Homo sapiens: one gene and its partners. The protein of the gene in region 1 purifies or fractionates together with the protein of each later gene. This does not show direct contact. Each region holds a gene or a part of one and is shown in the gene's direction. Other genes may lie near its edges.

Region 1 (5,292 bases):
AAAAAAAAAAAAGCAAGCAAACATTGTAAGGATTAAGTTAGAAATTGAGCCCTAAAAGAAGTTGGAAGTAAACTCTTGACTTATTTGGAAGTTTATAGGAATGTTAAGCAAGAAATCGGGTTTTCTTTTTTTTTTTTTTTTTTTGGAGACAGAGTCTCGCTCGTCACTCAGGCTGGAGTGCAGTGGTGTGATTTCTACTCACTGCAACCTTTGCCTCTGCCTCCTGGGGTTCAAGCGATTCTCCTGATTCAGCGTCCCGAATATCTGGGATTACAGGCGCATGCCACCATGCCTGGCTAATTTTTGTATTTTAAGTAGAGACGGGGTTTTGCTGTGTTGGCCAGGCTGGTATCAAACTCCTGACCTCAGGTGATCCACCAGCCTCGGCCTCCCAAAGTGCTGGGATTACAGGTGTGAGCCACCATGCCCAGCTTAACTGAGTTTCTTTAAAAAGCAGGAAAAAGCACTGTACATGTCTAAATATAAGGTGATACCAAGACGGGTGTTCACATGTTTTCCTAATGGGATATTTTGCATGCATAAAACTTGTAGACATGGATATAAAATAGTTAAATATCTACCCACATTTTAATGTATTAATTTATTTCCACATATACATTTTTAAAGTCACATATTACATGAAGTATTAATTTAGAAATACTACTTTTTTCCACCCATACAGTTCATTGACTTTATTCAGTGCTTCACATGTGATTTGGCATCAGTGTCTGTCATCACCAACTCCCCTGTTTTCAGTCATCTCACCCAGTTGTCCAGCACACATCATTTCTGCCTAAATTTTTTGAGACTCAGTATTTTTTTTTTTTTTATAAAACCATGATTCTGTCACGGTTAACTATATGGCAAACCACACATTCCATTTGTATAATAGGGAGACAGTTACTTTTTATATGTGTTCTATAGGTGAATATGTTTGATCTCTAGCTTCTTAAAGTTATCTTTAATGGACTTTTGCATAGTCATATCCAGCATTTGCAATTATAAGAAATAATTTCTAAATTTGTATGGATTTTTTGCTTTGAAAAAGAGATCTTGTTAGATTATATTACACCTATAAGCATTTAAAACTAATAATGTTGGGATTGCTTCAGCCCCATTTCTTTTCTCCAAACCAAACTTTGTTTTTCATGATAGAGTAATACAGAGACTTGGATAAGGATTTGGCTATGAGGTGACTGTCTTTCCTAAGACATTATTTTAGGGAAAGAAAAATACTTGCCTTATGCTTGTATATATATGATACTTACTTTTCCCTTTCAAAGTTATTCTTTTAATCTTTATTAAAGCACAATATAATGTAATAAAGCAGATAACCTGAGGAGAACTTCATTTAATGGCAAGTTGAGGTGATGTTATTAATTTTGTGATTTTTTTTCTTATCTGAGTGCATAGCACAATGTTTAAAATATCAATTTCTTAAAGAAACATTTCTATAAAAAAGATAGCAAGTGAGTCAATAAATGGATATACTATGTGGCAGACATTTTTAAATGAACATTTCCATAGCTGTATAATAATATTTATGTGAGCTTTTTACTAGAAGGTAGCACTTAATTTGGCAGGAGATGTTATCCTTGTCATTTCCTGATAACCATTAACTACATACTACAGAAGATAGGAACAGCTGGTGCTTTTATAACAAAGGTTGATTGGGGAGATGATAGAGCTTGGGGGATCTAAGAGGATTTAGAATGGTCAGTGGTTTCTGTCTTGGCTATTTAAAGAAATGCTTACTTTTAAGAATTTTAACTAATTGAAGTGGCAAATAATTTTACTTTCTTTCATATGTTCCATGAAAAAAATCTATTGTAACATTTAGCAGAAAAGAATATCACTTTTATGCTGGAGCTTCCATCGTTGTATGAAAAAATGTTTATATTATTAACATGCCAAAAGTATGATAATTCAGTTCTACATATATTAGCAATAAATTGTACCAATGAAAATAATGATTAATTATCACTTTTATCTCTTAACAGTGGAAAGAGTGGAACGAGAAAACCTTTCAGACTATTGTGTTCTGGGCCAGCGTCCAATGCATTTACCAAATATGAACCAGCTGGCATCCCTGGGGAAAACCAACGAACAGTCTCCTCACAGCCAAATTCACCACAGTACTCCAATCCGAAACCAAGTGCCCGCATTACAGCCCATCATGAGCCCTGGTCTTCTTTCTCCCCAGCTTAGTCCACAACTTGTAAGGCAACAAATAGCCATGGCCCATCTGATAAACCAACAGATTGCCGTTAGCCGGCTCCTGGCTCACCAGCATCCTCAAGCCATCAACCAGCAGTTCCTGAACCATCCACCCATCCCCAGAGCAGTTAAGCCAGAGCCAACCAACTCTTCCGTGGAAGTCTCTCCAGATATCTACCAGCAAGTCAGAGATGAGCTGAAGAGGGCCAGTGTGTCCCAAGCTGTCTTTGCAAGAGTGGCATTCAACCGCACACAGGTACAATTAGCATTAAACACTGTAATTAACAGTAATACTGGGGACAGAATTGAGATAGGTTATAATTATTTTTATCTCTTTAAAAAGCTTTATGGATCTCAGGACATAGAATTAGATTAATTAATAATCCTTAGTTAATGAAACGCTATTACCATTGATCCATGCATGACCATGATTAATTAACTAATTGATTAATTTTGATGAGGTAATGGACATCTTTGAACCCAACATGCAACTCAGGACCCCAAATGTTACTAATGACTTGGGTATGTACTCTCTCATCCTCTCCATTTACTGTTTGCAGATGTAACCCTGATCTTGAATTTTGTGATTATCAGTCTCTTGCCATTTTTTAAAACAAATTATAAAACTATGCATGCCCAGACAATCTATTTTTTTCCCTTGGTTTTGAACGTTATAAAAGAAATAAAATTATGTTTTATAATTTTATAAGTAAAGTTTTATTTAAAAATTTATAAAAATCCTTCAAAACATAAAAGTTAGATTTAAGATATTGATAAAATGATAATGGATAGTTTACTTTTATTTTTAATGTTTGAGAGAATTATATGCCAATTATAACACTAAATGTTGAAAATGTAAACAGTTAATTCACACGTCTTATTTTTATTGAGGGTGCTTATATGTAAGACATTCTTTTCTGCTAGTAGTTCTTAAACTGGAGTGTGCATCAGAATCACCTGGAGGGCTGTGAAACACAGACTGCTGGGCCTCATCCCATAGTTTCTGATTGAGTAAGTCTGAGGTTGGACTCAGAAATGGACATTTCTAACAAGATCCCAGGTGATTATGATGGTACTGATCCGGGGCCGCATGTTGAGAAAAACTTACCTAGCCCTTATATGAGTAAGAACAAAGCAGATGTGCATAATCTCGGGGAGCTAACGATCTAGTGGTGAAAACCAGGTAACCAGATAATTAGAGTAAAATGTGAAGTGTTATGAGTAATGTTGGAGAGTGTAAGCAATAGTTGTGGTGGAGGTTCATGGTGAGCTGGAGGTGAGGAATACTTCCAGGAGAATGAATATGGTAAGCCTTCAAGAAAACAGTAGATTAAAATTTCAGCACCCTCGTAAATGCAAGGCAGGAAGCTAAGCTCTATGTGGGTGCAAAGAGGAAAAAGATAATGGGCAAGCACATATGTAAACAACACTCTAGAGTATTAGGTTGTCAATGGGTTAGACCTTGAAGGATTAATAAAGTACAGCAGGCAAAGATGATGAAGAAGAAGATTATTATTTTAAGGTAAAGACATTCATAGGAAAGATGTTGAGTTAAAAAATGCAGGAATAATTTGAAGACATAAAACAACTGATTTCTGAGAAAAACCCTGTGAACGTACAGAATGTAGGAATGCTTTCATTTATCTGATACCTGTTCAGAGACACATGATAACACACGCTGTAGATGGACCTTACAAATGAAAGAAAGCATGCTGGATTGAAACCTCAATAATTTGGAAAATACAGGAATGTTTCCAAATTTAATGATTACTTCAGAAGTTAAGGGGCTGGGCACAGTGGCTCATGTCTGTAGTCCTAGCACTTTGGGAGGCCAAGGTGGGCGGATCACTTGAGGTCAGGAGTTCAAGACCAGCCTGGGCAAGATGGTAAAACACCATCTCTACTAAAACAGAACAAAACAAAAAAATTAGCTGGGCGTGGTGATGCGTGCCTGTAGTCTCAGCTACTCAGGAGGCTGAGGCAGAAGAATCCCTTGAACCCAGGAGGCGGAGGCTGCAGTGAGCCGAGATCATGCCACTGCACTCCAGCCTGAGTGAGAGTGAAACTCCATCTCAAAAAAAAAAAAAAAAAAAAAAAAGTTAAGTGAAAACTCTCACTGGGGAGAAATCTGATAAATGTTGGTAAATTGGATTGCCTGATGCAAGTTAACACTCAAAAAATGCACCTAAGTGAAATGTTATACCAGTTATAAATATTTTATGTTTATCAGTGGTTCATTGTTAAAGAGGGTCTGTTTACTTTTGGTTTCCACGTCTCTTGCAAGAAAACATTGAGGTAAGAATTTTGTAGATACTCTTTAAGCAATACTGCGTGAGTTAAATAAATAGCGTTTTTGTTAAGTCAGTTAATACATTTTTTCTCTCTTTATTCGAAAGTGTGTTGGATCTCTGGTTGAATTGAAATGTATTTCTATTATGTAGGCGATTTAAATTTTTATTAGTTTTGAAATTGTCGTATGATTAATGAGTCATTGAAAAATGAGTTTTTGTGCTGGGTGCGGTGGCTCACGCCTATAATCCCTGCACTTTGGGAGGCTGAGGGTGGCAGATCACGAGGTCAAGAGATCGAGACCATCCTGGCCAACATGGTGAAACCTCGTCTCCACTAAAAATACAAAAATTAGCTGGGCGTGGTGGCGTGTGCCTGTAATCCCAGCTACTTGGGAGGCTGAGGTAGGAGAATCACTTGAACCCAGGAGGTGGAGGGTGCAGTGAGCCGAGATTGCGCCACTGCACTCCAGCCTGGCAACAGAGCGAGACTCTGTCTCAAAAAAAAAAAAGAAAAAGAAAAAAAGAAAAATAAGTTTTTGTTAATGGTTGGGATTTTCTTACTGGCCTCGTGGCAAGTTTTGTTATCTCTTATTATATATATTCTACCTTTTTATGGGAAAAACTACTCTTTTTGGTGTAAAGATATTTTTTATATTTTCTTTGCTTGTAAAGAGTTATTATCAATTTGTAAGTATAAAAACTGCAAGTATAGTTGGTAGTTGATAAGAAAGGTAGATAATAAAACTTAAAAGGGATGGACACAGATTGAAAAAGGCCTTGAGTG
Region 2 (5,292 bases), on another chromosome or scaffold:
CCACAAATAAACACATTTTAAAAGAACCCTGACACCACTTTTTACAAATGGAAGGCTAGTATTATTTCCTATAAGTAAAAGGTATCCATACAAAATTAACAATAAACACAAAAGTGGTATTATTATGTTGCTATTACACCATTGTCTGCTGGAGGTTCTGGGCTAGTGGTCTTTTCTCTCTTTGTTACAAAAGAAAAAAAGGAGAGATTAGTAAGTGTTAAAGGCACATTAACATCAAACGAGCCTTTCTCCTAGCTGGCGTCAAGTTTCAAATGTCTATGTGTTCCTTGGCTCCAAGTCCTGATAGTACTTGAAGCATGTATGAACCTTACATCTAGAGAAACAGTGTGCTCAGATAATCACACACATTTATCTCACTTAATCCTTCACCAACTCCAAGGAAACAGGCATATGAGTGTAGATGAGAAACAAAGGCTCAGAGAGGTAAAGTCACTTGCCCATAGTCACACAGCCTGTAAGTGTCAGAGCCTAAAATCAAACCCAGACATGTTCAGCCCCCTTTGGACTTTCCTACTGTCCTCAGGGCTGCCTTGCCAGGGGAGAGAGAAAGGCAAGTAGGGAGTGGGGGCTTCTACTAACCATATGTCTCCTGTCTGCCTCATGGTCCTTCTTGTATCCAGCTGGGTCGCCTTTGAGCAGTCCAACTTCCGCGGGGAGATGTTCATCCTGGAGAAGGGCGAGTACCCTCGCTGGAACACATGGTCGAGCAGCTACCGCAGTGATCGGCTCATGTCCTTCCGGCCCATCAAAATGGTGAGTGGCTCTCCGGCTGGGGCTGGAGAATCAGCCAGGCGGGGCAGGGCAGGTGTAAGTCTGAGATCTGACAAGGGCAAGAAGGAGATGATGGTGGGTAGGGAGGCGTGGCAGCCTCCGAGTTGTCAAAGGACCGTGGATTCTTGAGCTCATCAATTCATCAGTGTCCTTAACACACTCACTACATACCCAGCTAGGAACCCTGGGCAAATGATAAGCACAAAAGCTTCCAAGTTAGAGCTAAAAACTTCAGCATCTTCCTTGATTCTCTTGATATCCCTGGCTGCACATTTAGACCTTACTGGGAGCTTTTTTTTTTTTTTTTTTTCCCAAAGATGGGGTTTTGCTGTGTCCCCCAGCCTGGTGTACAGTAGTGTGATCATAGCTCACTGCAGCCTTGAACTCCTGGCCTCAAGTGATCCTCCCGCCTGGGCCTCCTAAAGTGCTAGGATTACAGCCGTGAGCCACCATGCCAGGCCTGGGAAAACTTTTCAAATTTCAGTGCCCATTCGAAACACCAAACATGCTGGTTGCAGATCATGCAATGGCTAAGAAGAGGGATATTGTAGCCGGGCATGGTGGCCCATGCCTGTAATCCCAGCACTTTGGGAGGCTGAGGTGGGTGGTTACCCAAGGTCAGGAGTTCAAGACCAGCCTGATCAACATGACGAAACCCCGTCTTTACTAAAAATACAAAAATTAGCCGGGCGTGGTGGCGCATGCCTGTAATCCCAGCTACTAGCAAGGCTGAGGCAGGAGAATTACTTGAACCCGGGAGCCAGAGGTTGCAGTGAGCCGAGATCATGCCATTGCACTCCAGCCGGGGTGACGGTGCCAGACTCCATCTCAAAAAAAAAAAAAAAAAAAAAGGAGAGGGATACTGTAGAAACGCAGCTTGAACCTCTTAATAATAAGACAATATACTGAATTAGTTTCTTATAATATTTAACTAAGTCAACTTCCAGAAGATTCAAGGTCAAAATGGTGGCGATATCTCCAAGTGATTCACAGTTTTTTCCAGAATTAAGTTGATGATGAGTCATGAACCAGCTACATCTTACTCACCAATGTTAGTTGCTGATGGTAACCGACTTTTGTCTTCCATGATGGGAACATTTATAAGAATTTTCATGAATGTGCATTTGAGGCTATCAAGTGCCAACCACCAGCTGTTTTGACATCACCAAATTTATCTTAATGGATTATTCAAACAGATCATTCCCAACACTTTTCGCAGAATGTAAGACTGAATTATTTGCCTTCATGATGCACTCTCTGTAAGAATTCACAGATGTCTCTCTCAATCATTGAATGGTTCTTATATGCCAACCTATGTTAAGGGGTTTGTTTGGAAGAGTGATCAACCAGGGCATTTCCAGTAGCTTCTAGAAGCTTGCTATTCAACATAATAGGCAGTAGCCATATGTGGCCATTGGACACTTGAATTTTGGCTAAATGGAGATGTGTCATAAGTGTAAAATACATATTAGGTTTTGAATACATAGTAAAAAAAATTTTAAAGAATGTCAACAATGCATTGATATCATTATATTGGTTACATATTGAAATTATAATATTTTAGGTATATTTGTTTAAATAAAATATGTTATTAGAAATGTTTAGAAATCTCAAAGCCTAGACCCCACCCCAGACCAATTAATTCTGAATCTCTAGGGCTGGAACTCCGGCACTGCTATCTTTTCTATGCCCTCTAAGTAGTCCGTCTGTGCAGCCAGGGCTGAGATCCAACCATCTAATTCAGGGGTGCCCAATATTTTGGCTTCCCTGGCCCACGCTGGAAGAATTGTCTTGGGCTACACATAAAATACACTATCACTAACGATAGCGGATGAGCTTTAAAACAATTGCAAAAAAAATCTCATAATGTTTTAAGAAAGTTCACAAATTTGTGTTGGGCCACATTCAAAGCCATCCTGAGCCACATGTGGCCTGCAGGCCGCAGGTTAAATAAGCTTGGTCTAACCCTTCCTCTCTCTGCCCTGCCACAGTCCTGGTCCAGGCCACCATCATCTCTGACCTGGTCATCTTCAGCTCTCTCCCTGCTGGGTTCCCTGACTCCTTTCCAGCCCCCTGTCGTGGGAAGTTAGAGGGATCTTTTCAAAATAAAAAAAAAAAATAAACCTGACCATCTTCTACTTGAACCCAGACATTTTGGTTGGCCTGTTTCTATTTTCCTTTTTTTTTTTTTTTTTTTTTGAGACACATCTAACTCTGTTGCCCAGGCTGGAGTGTAGTGGCACGTTCTGGCTCACTGCAACCTTCACCTCCCTGGGGCAAGCAATTCTCCTGCCTCAGCCTCCCAAGTAGCTGGGATTATAGGTGTGCACCGCCACGCCCAGATAATTTTTGTATTTTTTATAGAGACAGGGTTTCATCATGTTGGCCAGGATGGTCTCAAACTCCTGATCTCAAGTGATCTACCCGCCTGGGCCTCCCAAAGTGCTGGGATTACAGGCATGAGCCAGTGCGCCCAACCAGTTGGCCTGTTTCTGCCAGGCTCTGGTTCTAGGCTCTGAGTGCAAAACTGTGCATCAAACAGACTAGGTCCCTGTCTTCATGGGACTTAAGCTACCCAGGGAGGCAGCTATCAAAAAGCTAATCATAAAAATCCATCTACAATTGCAAACTGTGGTAGGTGTTACACAAAGGCCATGCAATCTAACTAGGAAAGCAGAAGCAGGAACTGGGGGCTCAGATATTGTTAGAGGTGGGAGTGGTCAGGGGGTCATCAGGGAAGCCAGCTCCCAAAGTTTGGAAACCAACTCAGCCACGTGAAGAGCAGATGGTAAAGCCTTCCAGGGAACAGTGTGTGCAAAACTCCTAGAGCAACGATGGACTGGTGGGACCAAGAAAATTAAAGGTGGCCAACAAAGCTGCAGCAGAGGGAGTGGAGGAAAGAGGGAGGCAAGATGGGAGGGGAGGTGGTGGTGGAGACCAGGGTCTTGTAGGGTCTCATAGGTGGTGGCAAGTTCAGTCTTGACCCCTCTAGCAGTGGGGAGCCATTGACTAACAACCTTCCCAAGGCCCTCAAGACCGTAACAGTAATAAGTAATCATTGTTGTACTTTTACCACTGGCTGGTAATTGCACTAAGGGCATTTGTCTTGCCATGCCCCAAAGGGTCCCCTGTGCTTACATCCCTGCCTGGCACCTTGCACTTGCCTTCCTGCACCCTGGCCACACAGATATTGTCTTGCACATTCCCACCTCCCAGCTTTTGCCTATGCCTTCTCTGCCTCAGTGCCTTCCCTCAACCCTCCTTCCCTTCTCAGCTTTGTGCACTCCTCCTTAACCTCCAAGGTCCCTCTCTAGTGTCACTTCTTCCATGAAGCCTTCCCTGATCTGCTCTGCTTTTCTCTGGAAGAATTAACCAGTTCTTTCTTCATCTATAATCTCCTACTGGAGTCTTTCACAGAAGGATGCACTTACGTTCTGGGCTCCTCTTCCTCCTAGTGGTGGTGAATAACAGTAGATAATAACAGTAGATAATCACAGCATCCATTTTTAAGCACCAACTACGTACTGGGTATATTACCTGCCTTTTACATAATCCCTACAACTGTCCTATGCTACAGGCTATGATAACATGCATTTTAAAAGCAAGGAAACTGAGACTCAGAAGTAGAAAATGACTGGCCTAAGGCCACACAGCTGGGAGTTGCTGGGGCTGGGATTTGAACCAAGGTCTGTGGGTTTGAACCTAGACACTGAGGTCCGGCATCACTCTGCTATTTCCTGTTCATCTCTTTGGCTCTTCAAACCCTTGGGCCTAAAACAGTGCATGATGACTTTTGAAAAGATGGATGATCCCTGCCCTCAGAAATAACAGACGAACTTTAAAAACAAGATACAGGGTCATGAAAGCATTAAAAATAAGTGCAAGCCAGAACTGAATCATGTGCCCACATTCAAGGGTGGGCCTGGTTGTTTGTTTGTTTGTTTTTTGAGACAGAGTCTTGCTCTGTCACCCAGGCTGGAGTGCAGTGACACAATCTTGGCTCACTGCAACCTCTGCCTCCCAGGTTCAAGTGATTCTCCTGCCTCAGCCTCCTGAGTAGCTGGGACTACAGGTGCGTGCCACCACGCCCAGCTAATTATTATTATTATTATTATTATTTTGTATTTTTAGTAGAGATGGGGTTTCTCCATGTTAGTCAGGCTGGTCTCGAACTCCTGACCTTGTGATCCCACCCATCTTGGCCTCCTAAAGTGCTGGGATTACAGGCGTGAGCCACCGCGCCCGGCCAGGCCTGTTTTATAGTTGGACTGAACCGTGAGTTGAGTAGCCATGACAATCCCACGAAGCAATAGTAACCCCATTCTTTTTTGTTGTTGTTGTTTGAGACAGTCTTGCTCTGTCGCCCAGGCTGGAGTGCAGTGGTGTGATCTCGCCTCACTGCAACCTCCACCTCCCAGGTTCAAGTGACTCTCCTGCCTCAGCCTCCCGAGTAGCTGGGATTACAGGCACATGTGATTGCACCTGGCTAATTTTTGCATT
Region 3 (4,835 bases), about 190 Mb from region 1:
CCCCAGTGCTGTTGACACCCCCCAGCACCATGTAACACACCGTGCATGCTAGTGACACCCTCCTGTGCCAGTGACACACACCCTGTGCCAGTGTGACACGTGTGCATCGTGCCCAGTCCAGAAGCAGCCAAAGAAACCTGGGTGCTGGAATGTGGCTTTTCTAAATTATATACGAAATTACTTAGATAAAATTGATCTGCCTTGAGGAGATCTTTGTGTATTGTTTCTCCAAGTCACCTTCTTTGCCCTCCACATGCCTGGCAGCAGTGCCATGGCTCCACACTCCAGGGTGTGTGGCCAGCGCCACTGAGGATGGCCAGGGCAGCACCTCCGTGTGTCGAGCCCGTTGGAGCCGGGCACTGGGTTGGGCACGTCCCACGGTGCTGCGCTTGGTCTTCACGTCTTCTTTCTGAGCTGGTCTCAGGGCTTGTTTATATTTATAGACAGGCGGCTGAGGCTCAGAGTTCAAGAGGCTTTTCGGGGCCATGGTTGGTATTCCCTGCCTCTGCAGCCCATGCCCTGCTCTACCCTCCTGCTCAGGATCCTATTTCCAAGTTATGTCACGTTGCTGCTTTGTCTAGAAATTAGTATTTTTAGTTCTTTTTTGTCTGTCTATGATGTTTGGCATGGATAAGCAGTGGCTAGCATAAGAATTTTTTGGCTTAGTTTTAAAACAAATTCTAATGGGAAATTTCTAGATGGTTCTAGTGGAAAGAGTTGGACTTAATAGTAGTTAATTTATTTTTGTTTATTTTCTTGTTTTTGTATTCTTTATTTTTTGTTTGATAATAGTAGTTCATTTAAACTTTGAGGCTCACTTGCTGGAGTGTGTAATTTGTCAGGGGGCTGTGACTTCACATCATGTAAGTTAGTGTTATTGATGTGCTTTTGCTTTATTCATTTAGAGATGGTTTCACTCTATCGCCCAGGCTGGAGTACAGTGGTGCAATCAGAGCTCACTGTAGCCTTGAACTCCTGGGCTCAGGCCATCCTTTCACCTCAGCTTCCCAAGTAGCAGGGACTACAGGCATGTACCACCATGTCCAGCTAGTTTTTAAAATTTTTCTGTAGAAATGGGATCTTGCTATGTTATCCAGGCTGGTCTCAAACTCTTGGGCTCAAGTGATTCTCCTGCCTCAGCGTCCCAAAGTGCTGGCATCACAGGTATGAGCCAAGTACCATTTACCAAGTGACAACTATGAAATACATGCTGGAAATAATAATCATAAATAAGCCAGTATATTTCATTTTCCAAATGCTATGATATAAATATATCACCTGATTTCCTCCTAACTCAATTCTCTCAGCAATCCTATAAGATGGGTACTATTATTATCCCCATTTTATAGATGAGGAAGTTGAGGCTTAAGGAGATTTAAATAATTTGCCTCACATGCTGCAACTAGTAAGTGGGAGAGCTAACAGGTCAATCTAGGTCTGACTCCAGGACCAAGTGGCAGTGAAGTTGGTTGGTCTTGTCCCCCCCCATCCAGGATCCTGGTGAACATGGACGACAACATTGTGAAGCATTACTCCAATGAGGACACCTTCCAGCTGCAGATTGAAGAAGCCGGGGGGTCTTACAAGCTCACCCTGACGGAGATCTAAAGGCCTGCGGGCCACAGCTCCCCAGGAGTTCAGTGCAGGTGTTTCTAGATCTTACGGTTTGGCAACTGCAGGTAACCCCAGTCAGCCATGTCGCCAGCACAGGTCTATGTCGAGGGAATGGGTTCCTTGCAGGTTGGAGGCGGGGCTGCATCTGGCTTGGTGGTAGCATTTAATCTATTGCATTGGTGTTTTTCAGATGAAAGAGAAATCCATATACCATTATGTTTGAATTTCCTGATATATACAGGATTTAAAGTGAAAACTTTATTCCAAGAGTTAACAGAGTCTCTGGGAAGCTTTAGGACATCTGCTACGTTATTTATCAAAATATTGGGATCTCTGCCTTGTGCCTACAGTGTCGTGGGCCTGCTCGCTAGCAGAAGTCAGAAAAGGCGATAGGCTTGGCTTTAAGGATTTCGTGCCCTTGCCTGAATTCAGTACAACTCCACTGCCTCACGTTAGCGGGAGCGCACCTGAAGAGTACGGGGGGAGCCCTCTCTCCCTTACCCTCTCACTCTCCACCAGATGTTTACTAAACAGGGCATGTTACTGAAATCTTCCTTTGCGACTTTCTCGGACATATCAACTGCCTTTCTCATGAAGAATTTTAATGGGTTACAGTATGAAATCAGTTAAGATAAAGCTGCATTGTATATAAGTGCAATATATTTTTGAAGGTCTGTAAATGTGTACATACATGTCTTATATAAATATATAATATATAAATATGGTGTCTGTGTACATATAGTGAAGATATGCAGTAAGAGCTACCTTAAAGACTTTCCCTAGACAAAGGTTAAGTTATTTTTTGATCGTGTATACCAAGCAGATAGAATACTGTGCTTAGTGGAACCCGCTAAAAACCTTTTTCTCTGTTTTTCCAAACACAGGCATTCTGTAGCATAGCAAAACCTTCTCAAATGACAGAGATTCTGTTTGCTGTTGAGAATGTTGTTATTTGGATTTCTGCACTGTTTAACAAATGAAGTAAAAGAAAAACACTACTGCAATCACGTCTTTTGTTATGCTAGTATCAGTCAGATGCACTTAGAGTGAAGAAACACTGTAATTACAGCACACAGATTGCAAGTATTGCGTACCAAGTGATACAACTCGAAATGCAGTTCTCATCTTCCTGTTTTGAGAAATGATTATTTTATCACGCATCAGAGCCTTCGTGCTTTGATTATCTTGTATGTTAACAATTCTAGAAAACATTCATGAATTCACAAAAATATGTTACTATGGCAGGGGAACATTTTGTACACATTTAAGTATATAAAAATACTAAAATATGTAATTTTATAACAAAGTCACGGGTATCTTTAGGTTCAGGGAACTAGACTAGGTCATTCGTGTAAATGGACTGGTAGTTACAGTCTTAGGTTAAAGTATTCTAATGAAGTATGGGAACTAAATTGCTGGTTTTCTAAGATAAGATATGGGATATGGGTCATATAACTTTTGTATTTTTTATGAAGTTGATTTTGTCTTGCGTGTTATTTTTAATTGTATCATTGAAGATGTATTTTAAACCAAAGGAATTAAATTTTATATGTCTATTTCGTAATATGTCATTTCCTGTTTTTCAATTTGACTTTGCACTGCTCAGTAAAACGTGAGAGCTGAAAAGCATCTCATTGCTAGCACTTTCTGCTTATTTCTTAATGTGTGCGCTTAGGTTGTTTTCTTCATGTTAACTTTTCCTTACTGATGCCTGAAATGATCCACGTAATTGTTAAGTCAGGGATCCCTGAATGATTTTCCAATTCTTACCAAAATTTAACCACTAAAGCTGAAGGTAAATGCTTTCATACCTAAAATCTTAGTATTCTTAGTGTTTAAAAGCCTAACAGAAAATACTTAGTTTAAAAATTTACCAATATTTAAATCATTAGAATCTCTAAAACAGGCGTCCTGAACATATTCCAGGGTAATCCAGGGCCTAAATATGATAGACACTAGGATATATTTTTAATGGATACAAGATCAGATTAATGACGTAAACTCCCTGATAGGGCTCCTGGGACATCTGCACTTTTCACAGTAACCCTCGGGCCAAAGTGGAGACTCTCCTGCAGCCTGGGTTCCCGTTCACTCAGTGCTTCCAGAGTCCAGCTCCACACAGGAAGCCTGGGGACCCTGCCAGCGCATCCTTTCTATGGGAGCCCTTCCTCACACCATGGGTCTCCTTCACCCCCTGGCTTCCCGGGACTTACCTTTGCCTCAAAACTCATCTCTTCCCGGGCGTCCCCAGGGCCATTACCTCTGGTTCCTCAGCCCAGCACCCACTCCCTGCTCTCACGGCTCCAAGTACTGACAGACACCTGCTGGCCCTCTTCTCAGCCTCTCGTTTCCTGGAGAGCAGGTTTTGGTGTCTTAGCTTTGGATCTCTGGCACCCAACCCAATGCTGGTTACATAGTTGATGCTCAGTGAATGATTCTGTAATGATAAAGCGACTAGTTTATCCTAGGAACTGCCTTCAAGTAACACAGTCACTTGCAAAACATCAGCAGGGAGCGTTTTTAGACATTACAGGCCCAGAAATCAGTCGGGGCTGGACTCGGACCAGTAGGCCACAGAGCAGGACCAGTAGGTGGAATTATCTGGGACTCAGGTGTGTGCCACTGTGCCTGGATTTCTGGCCTGGATCTTTGCAGTAACCCAACTGGACTCATCGTTTCCATCCCTGGGCCCCTTCGTTTTATTCCTAATCTAGGAGCCATGATGATTCTTCTAAAATATAAATTAGGACTCTGCTCAGAACCCTGCAGTAGCTCTCCGCTTCACTCATAATGTAGACGGGATCTGTCCTCTGGCCACTGACCTCAAATTACACCATAGCTGAAGGTCCTGCAGAGTTAGGCCTGCTGAGGTTACGCGATGTCGAGAGCAAATGTCGGCATTCCGGTAATAAATGCCTTTGACTCTTAGTTTTCCGTTGCTGAAAGTCATGTTGGAGACGTTTGCCCAATCTTGGTCATGTTTCCAAGAAGAAAGACTCGTTTTATGAGCCTCATGGGATATTGATGGTATTAATAACAAGATGAGTTGAAGGCTGAGCATCAGGATTGCCATTCTTAGCAAATACTTCTTTCTCCCTATTAAAATTCATCAGAAGCAGTTCACTTGCAGCTGGCAGGGCCAACGATACACCTTCAGTGTCCCCCCTCGGGCTCTCCTGGATTCCTCAGCCCAGCACTCACTATGTGAGGGGGTCTGGTCT
Region 4 (5,292 bases), on another chromosome or scaffold:
TAGAAGGGAAAGCCTGCAGGTAGCAATACAGACATCTCTGACAGAGAAAAATAAACAGCAGGATCAAGCTGAGACCAGATTTATTAACCATTTTTGATAAAATATTTGGAAGAGGTACACAGCCTGGTGATTTGCCCTCTGAAAAATGCCAAGGTAATAGTCATAAATATCGGAAATAGTTTATAAGTTTAGGCGGATAAATAGAAAGTTGGTTGATACATTTGAATGTAGTCAAATGCAAGAAAATTGGCTGATAAATTTGTATTTAGTCAAATGCAAAAAGTTGTTTACAGAAAAATGATTTATAGAGGTTTGCTTCTGAGCTTAGTGATGATGCAACAAAGGGCAAATAGACAGCGTTCATTGCAGACATCAGCCTGGTGATCTATTTGGGATCAAGGATCTCAACAAAGACCTGGTCATCATCACAATAAAATTTCACATCCTCCCACCTCCAAGGTAAGCAGCATTATGCCCACTAGCTTGTGGGATGTGGAACAGAGTTCTAGCTTCAGCTCAAGGATTGAGTAAAATTGGTAAAATTGGAGAAGGCTCAGGGAAGGGCAGCTAAATTAATCAAGAGAGTAGAGAAGCTTTTGTATTAGGTTAGATAAAAATAGTGAGACGTTCTCAGAGAAAAGATTCAAGAGGACCTCTTAAAAGTAGGGTTATCCTTACTGTATCCAAAATAAATTACATTTTCTCAGATTTCTGGTGACTAAAGTATTTCTTTTGATTGCTTTGTCTTTCCTCTTTTTTTTTTCCCCCAGAAGACAGGGGTCATAGGATGAGGATGAAAGACAGAGGGCTAGGTGAAAAATACCAGGTCTGAACCAAAGAGAGGGCTAAACTTAGAGTAAAAAACATCCTGTTGGAAAACTGCAATATCAAAAGACAAACACCACCAACTCTGTGCAGGCTGAATGTGACAGTGAATATATTCTATGTGACAAAACGTAGGCCTAAAAGTCATCATAAAACCTTTCTGCAAGGTTTTCTAATAAGAGTTCTAAATCACAGAATGTTTCGTAGTGCCCAGGGCCTGGCTATGAAACTCTCTTAACCCTGTGAAATGTGAATAATAGTAGTAACCACTGTATTAACCAATATCTAATCAGCCAGTGAGAATAATGAAGATCAAAATTAGGGAAGGAAAATAACATTTATTGAACAATTATTGCATGCCAAGTATTCATGTAATGTTCACAGCAGCCTTGCAAAATAAATATTCCTTTGCAGAGTTCACAAATAAGAAAAGTGAGACATGTGGAGGCTAGTAATGGAGGTAAATAATGGAAGTGAGTAGAAAACTCCAAGCTGTCTTGGAGACAAAAAGAGGCCTTTTCAAATGGCCCTTTTTGGTCCTAATTATGCTAACTGTTCAGCAGAACATTTGTAGCTTAGATGCAGTCACTACCAGCCCTCTCTTCCAAATCATCTCTTTGGGTTTTGCTTCAGTGTGAAACTATCACTATAAATGAGTATTTGTTTGTCTTCACCCACCTCCAGCTGATCACTGCTCCCAAGGCTGAGAACAATATGTATGTGCAACAACGTGATGAATATCTGGAAAGTTTCTGCAAGATGGCTACCAGGAAAATCTCTGTGATCACCATCTTCGGCCCTGTCAACAACAGCACCATGAAAATCGACCACTTTCAGCTAGGTTCTCTTAAACATTTTAATTATATTATTGTTTTTCTCATATCTAAGGTGGGACAAACTTTATGGTAGAGGTACATGGGGGATCCAAAAGAAAATGAAGATGTTCAGAGGGCTCTTTGGTTGTGATAACACAGGTCAGTTTGCCTGCTTATTTAAATAGCCATTCCAGGATGGTTCTCGTTTAAGTTTTAAGCACTGTAAAAAAGAAAAATACGCAAACACTCTATTGTCTGAAAGTCAGTAAGGTGGAAGAAAATGGGAAAAGTAACACAGTGTGGGAGAGAATCAGAGAGGCATTCAGACACTTTTTCTGGGTACTGAGTCTTCTCGCCTGTGAGCAGCCCCGTCTGATCTTCCTGCAGACTCTCCGCTGCAGGTGACTCATCACAGATGGGACTTGCCAGACTCTCGGAAGTACTTGACTCTGGCAAGCCTGAGGAAGGAATTAACCAGAACTGAGAGAAGCTGTTAAGATAAATGAAAAGTCACTGAAAATATGGACTGAACTGCACCCAAGTCCTTTTGGAGAGTAGAAGAATTTGGCTGAATTTAGAGTTTTCGCAATTTTACATATGAATGGTGCATGTGAGACTCATGAGGCGTACAGCCCAGTGTTGGACAGCTGAGATCTAACTCATTGCAGTTCTCCTGGGAACGTTGCAAGATTTACTGTGATTAGTTAAGCCTCATAGTCAGAAGCCCAAAATATGACCCACCCAGTTTATTTCATAATTATTGCATCTCTAGGGCTTTATTTTTTAAAAAGCTTTTTTTCTTATATGCACTTTCTACTGTTTTGTTGTTGTTCATGGTTTAACTACAAAAAAAAAAAACCTTAGAGTAATCCTTTATATTCCATCGTTTGCATATTCTGCATAGTTTCCGTAAAATATATTTCATCTAAAAGCACTTGAAAGAATATAAAATATATTTAGTAATATATAACTAATTATTTGTTAGTCAACATTTAACTTCAATACACATAACATTATCACACAGATTTTTCTGACATACGATCTTGGTGTAATTGAAGACATACTAGTTATATTATGTCACGATAATGTCAACTTGATTTGAATATGGTCTAGCCTTCTAAATCATATTTTTTTTATTGTGGTAAGTACACTTAACGTGAAATCTTCCCTCTTAATACATTTTTAAGTGCACAATACAGTATTGATAACTATAGGTACAATATTGTACGGCAGATCTCTAGAGCTGATTCAGGGTAAAGTATCAGTTATGCATTCTCTACTTTAAATAGCCCACCTTCCTCTGAGGTGGCTACAAAAGAAAAATAAATAGCATCTTTTCCAATGTCCCATCATAAATTATTGTGGATTGATGATTTATTTTTAGACATTTATCCTGCACTGTGTGTATAATTTAGGGGGAGAACAAGCAAAAAAGGAATTTTCTTAACCAAAACAACAATAATGATCATACAAACAAAAGACACAAAATGAATTCTGGAGACAGACAGATTTAAATCCAGGGTCACAATTTACTTGTTGTGTGACCTTGGGCAAGCTACTCCTAAGTCTTAGTTTAGAAGATAATCATATCTATTTCACAGGATTAAATAAGATAGTATACAGAAATGCCAGTCAGGTAATAGGCACTATTATGTGGTCATCCTCTGCATCACCATTTGATCTGGTAGTCATCTGGAAATCAATGAGCTGTCACACTTGTCACTAGAGCACCTATAATGGCAAAATACTTGTTATTGCTTTGTGCTGATTACAGAATGTTGACACAAGAACCCTCACAACAGCTCATCCAGATCAGGCTGCATTATTATTCTTGGTGATAAAACTGAAGCCCAAGAGACTAATACTACAAAGCCACGTATTTATTGGCTAACTAGGATTCAACCATTTGTTTCCTGGATTTTTCAAATAATAGCATGAGGGCAGTGAGCTTAATTACACTCCAGATGTCCAGAAAGGAAGTAAGTATTCAATCCAGCACAAAGACTGGTGCTGGCTAGTGATGAAAGCCCTCACAAACCAGGTGTTCCCAGTGTCAAATGTGTTACCTACCAACACTTTCACAAAGTGTTCTCATTCCTTATTTCAGAGAAGCTTGGAAAAATCATTACATCTTCCACCTCAACTTCTATATGGTCCCATTATAAGCATCTGGTACTGCCTTGGCAAATTTTTAGCATAATCCTACTGTTTTCTAGACATCTGGATTGAATATGAACTGTAGAGGGGCTGTGGGTCTTTTTTTTTTTTTTTTCTGCCTTATTGGAAATCAGGTATTATGATTTGGGCATTTTCCTCACTGAATGGTAGCCGGGACCTGATTTTGGGGTGGGAGATCTTTTATTTTGTTTCTCATCTAATTCCTGGAAGGCCTCTCTTTCCTTGTGTCATGTCCCAGTTTACCCTTATGGGAAAGGCTGTAGCACTGTGAGCCAAGACTGGGAGTCGGCCATGGGATAAAAAGAATTGGCATGAGCCATGGGCTCAGTGAACCAAAAAACTCCAGCCTTGACTGACTTTCAGCTGGAAATCTATCAGATGGCCTTACTTTTCCTTAAAAATAAATCAAGCTCTGCCTACTATTCCAGACTTTTACTGGGCCTTGAAAGCAGGGGCACACATCCAACTACAGTGTGGGCCGTACTCACCAGCTGGTCCATCTTGCTAAAAGTATTTGGACATCACTGATGAACCTACAAACGCCAAGAAACTTACCTTAAGATTTTAGGCTTTCATGTAAATAAAGTTATTTATGCTTGAGCAAATTCCAATGCCTATCTGGTTTTGTCAGCACAGAGTATATTGCATGTGGGGTTTAAAATGGCCTAACACATAAAGGCATTCTTTCTTGTTAGTGATATCTAAAATGTCAGTCTAGGATAGGAATGTTGGGTGTGTATGTTTAGTGAATGGATTACAGACAAATTTTGTCAGATAGGAAAAAGTTGCTGGCTAAAGGCACTTCATTGCAGAATGAAAAAAGAAGTGGGGGGAAATGCACAGCAAGCATGTTTCTTTCTTAGCAATATTTAGAGATGAAAAATATTTTAACATTGGCATTTTATCACCAAATTTTAAGAGCTAGAATACACAGGACATTTAATAGGGCAAGGGAAGTTTTTTGATAACTTCTTTCAAAGAAAGGAGAGTTTGAGGGTAATCAAGAGAGGTAGCAAAGTTCATGGAGGTGGAATATGGCAACAAGGAGAGAGAAAATGTTGATTTCTTACTATCTAATGACTTCATAAGTCAATTTTTAAAATGAGAATGGTACGCCAGGTGCAGTGGCTCATGCTTGTAATCCCAATACTTTGGGAGGCCGACGTAGGCTGATCACTTGAGGCCAGGAGTTTGGGAACAGCCTGGCCAATATGGTGAAATCCCATCTCTACTAAAAATACAAAAATTAGCTGGGCATGGTGGCAGATGCCTGTAATTCCAGCTATTTGGGGGGTTGAGGCAGGAGAATTTCTTGAACCTGGGAGGCAGAGGTTGCAGTGAGCCAAGATTATGCCAGTACACTCTAACCTGGGTGACAAAGTGACACTCTGTCTCAAAATAAATAGATAAATAAATCAATAAATAAACAAAATGAGAATGATAGTATACAAATCAGTCTAAAATACCCTTTCTG

The links. The genes of interacting proteins can lie anywhere in the genome.
Region 2: the proteins of SATB2 (region 1) and CRYBB1 purify together in Homo sapiens (co-immunoprecipitation; one large-scale study listed by IntAct). This does not show direct contact.
Region 3: the proteins of SATB2 (region 1) and GRHL1 purify together in Homo sapiens (co-immunoprecipitation; one large-scale study listed by IntAct). This does not show direct contact.
Region 4: the proteins of SATB2 (region 1) and CCDC80 purify together in Homo sapiens (co-immunoprecipitation; one large-scale study listed by IntAct). This does not show direct contact.

Annotation. Positions count from the first base shown.
Region 1 is NC_000002.12:199,345,882-199,351,173, reverse strand, and holds part of SATB2 (DNA-binding protein SATB2), read left to right. Parts: intron 1-2,000; coding exon 2,001-2,473; intron 2,474-5,292. UniProt on the Homo sapiens protein: Binds to DNA, at nuclear matrix- or scaffold-associated regions. Thought to recognize the sugar-phosphate structure of double-stranded DNA.
Region 2 is NC_000022.11:26,603,371-26,608,662, reverse strand, and holds part of CRYBB1 (beta-crystallin B1), read left to right. Parts: intron 1-600; coding exon of another isoform or gene 601-603; exon of another isoform or gene 604-641; coding exon 642-774; exon of another isoform or gene 775-841; intron 842-5,292. Other genes in the region: CRYBA4 (beta-crystallin A4), read right to left, coding at 601-603. UniProt on the Homo sapiens protein: Crystallins are the dominant structural components of the vertebrate eye lens.
Region 3 is NC_000002.12:9,999,100-10,003,934, forward strand, and holds the end of GRHL1 (grainyhead-like protein 1 homolog), read left to right. Parts: intron 1-1,493; coding exon 1,494-1,608; 3' UTR 1,609-3,178; downstream 3,179-4,835. UniProt on the Homo sapiens protein: Transcription factor involved in epithelial development. Binds directly to the consensus DNA sequence 5'-AACCGGTT-3'.
Region 4 is NC_000003.12:112,626,487-112,631,778, reverse strand, and holds part of CCDC80 (coiled-coil domain-containing protein 80 precursor), read left to right. Parts: intron 1-1,509; coding exon 1,510-1,666; intron 1,667-5,292. UniProt on the Homo sapiens protein: Promotes cell adhesion and matrix assembly.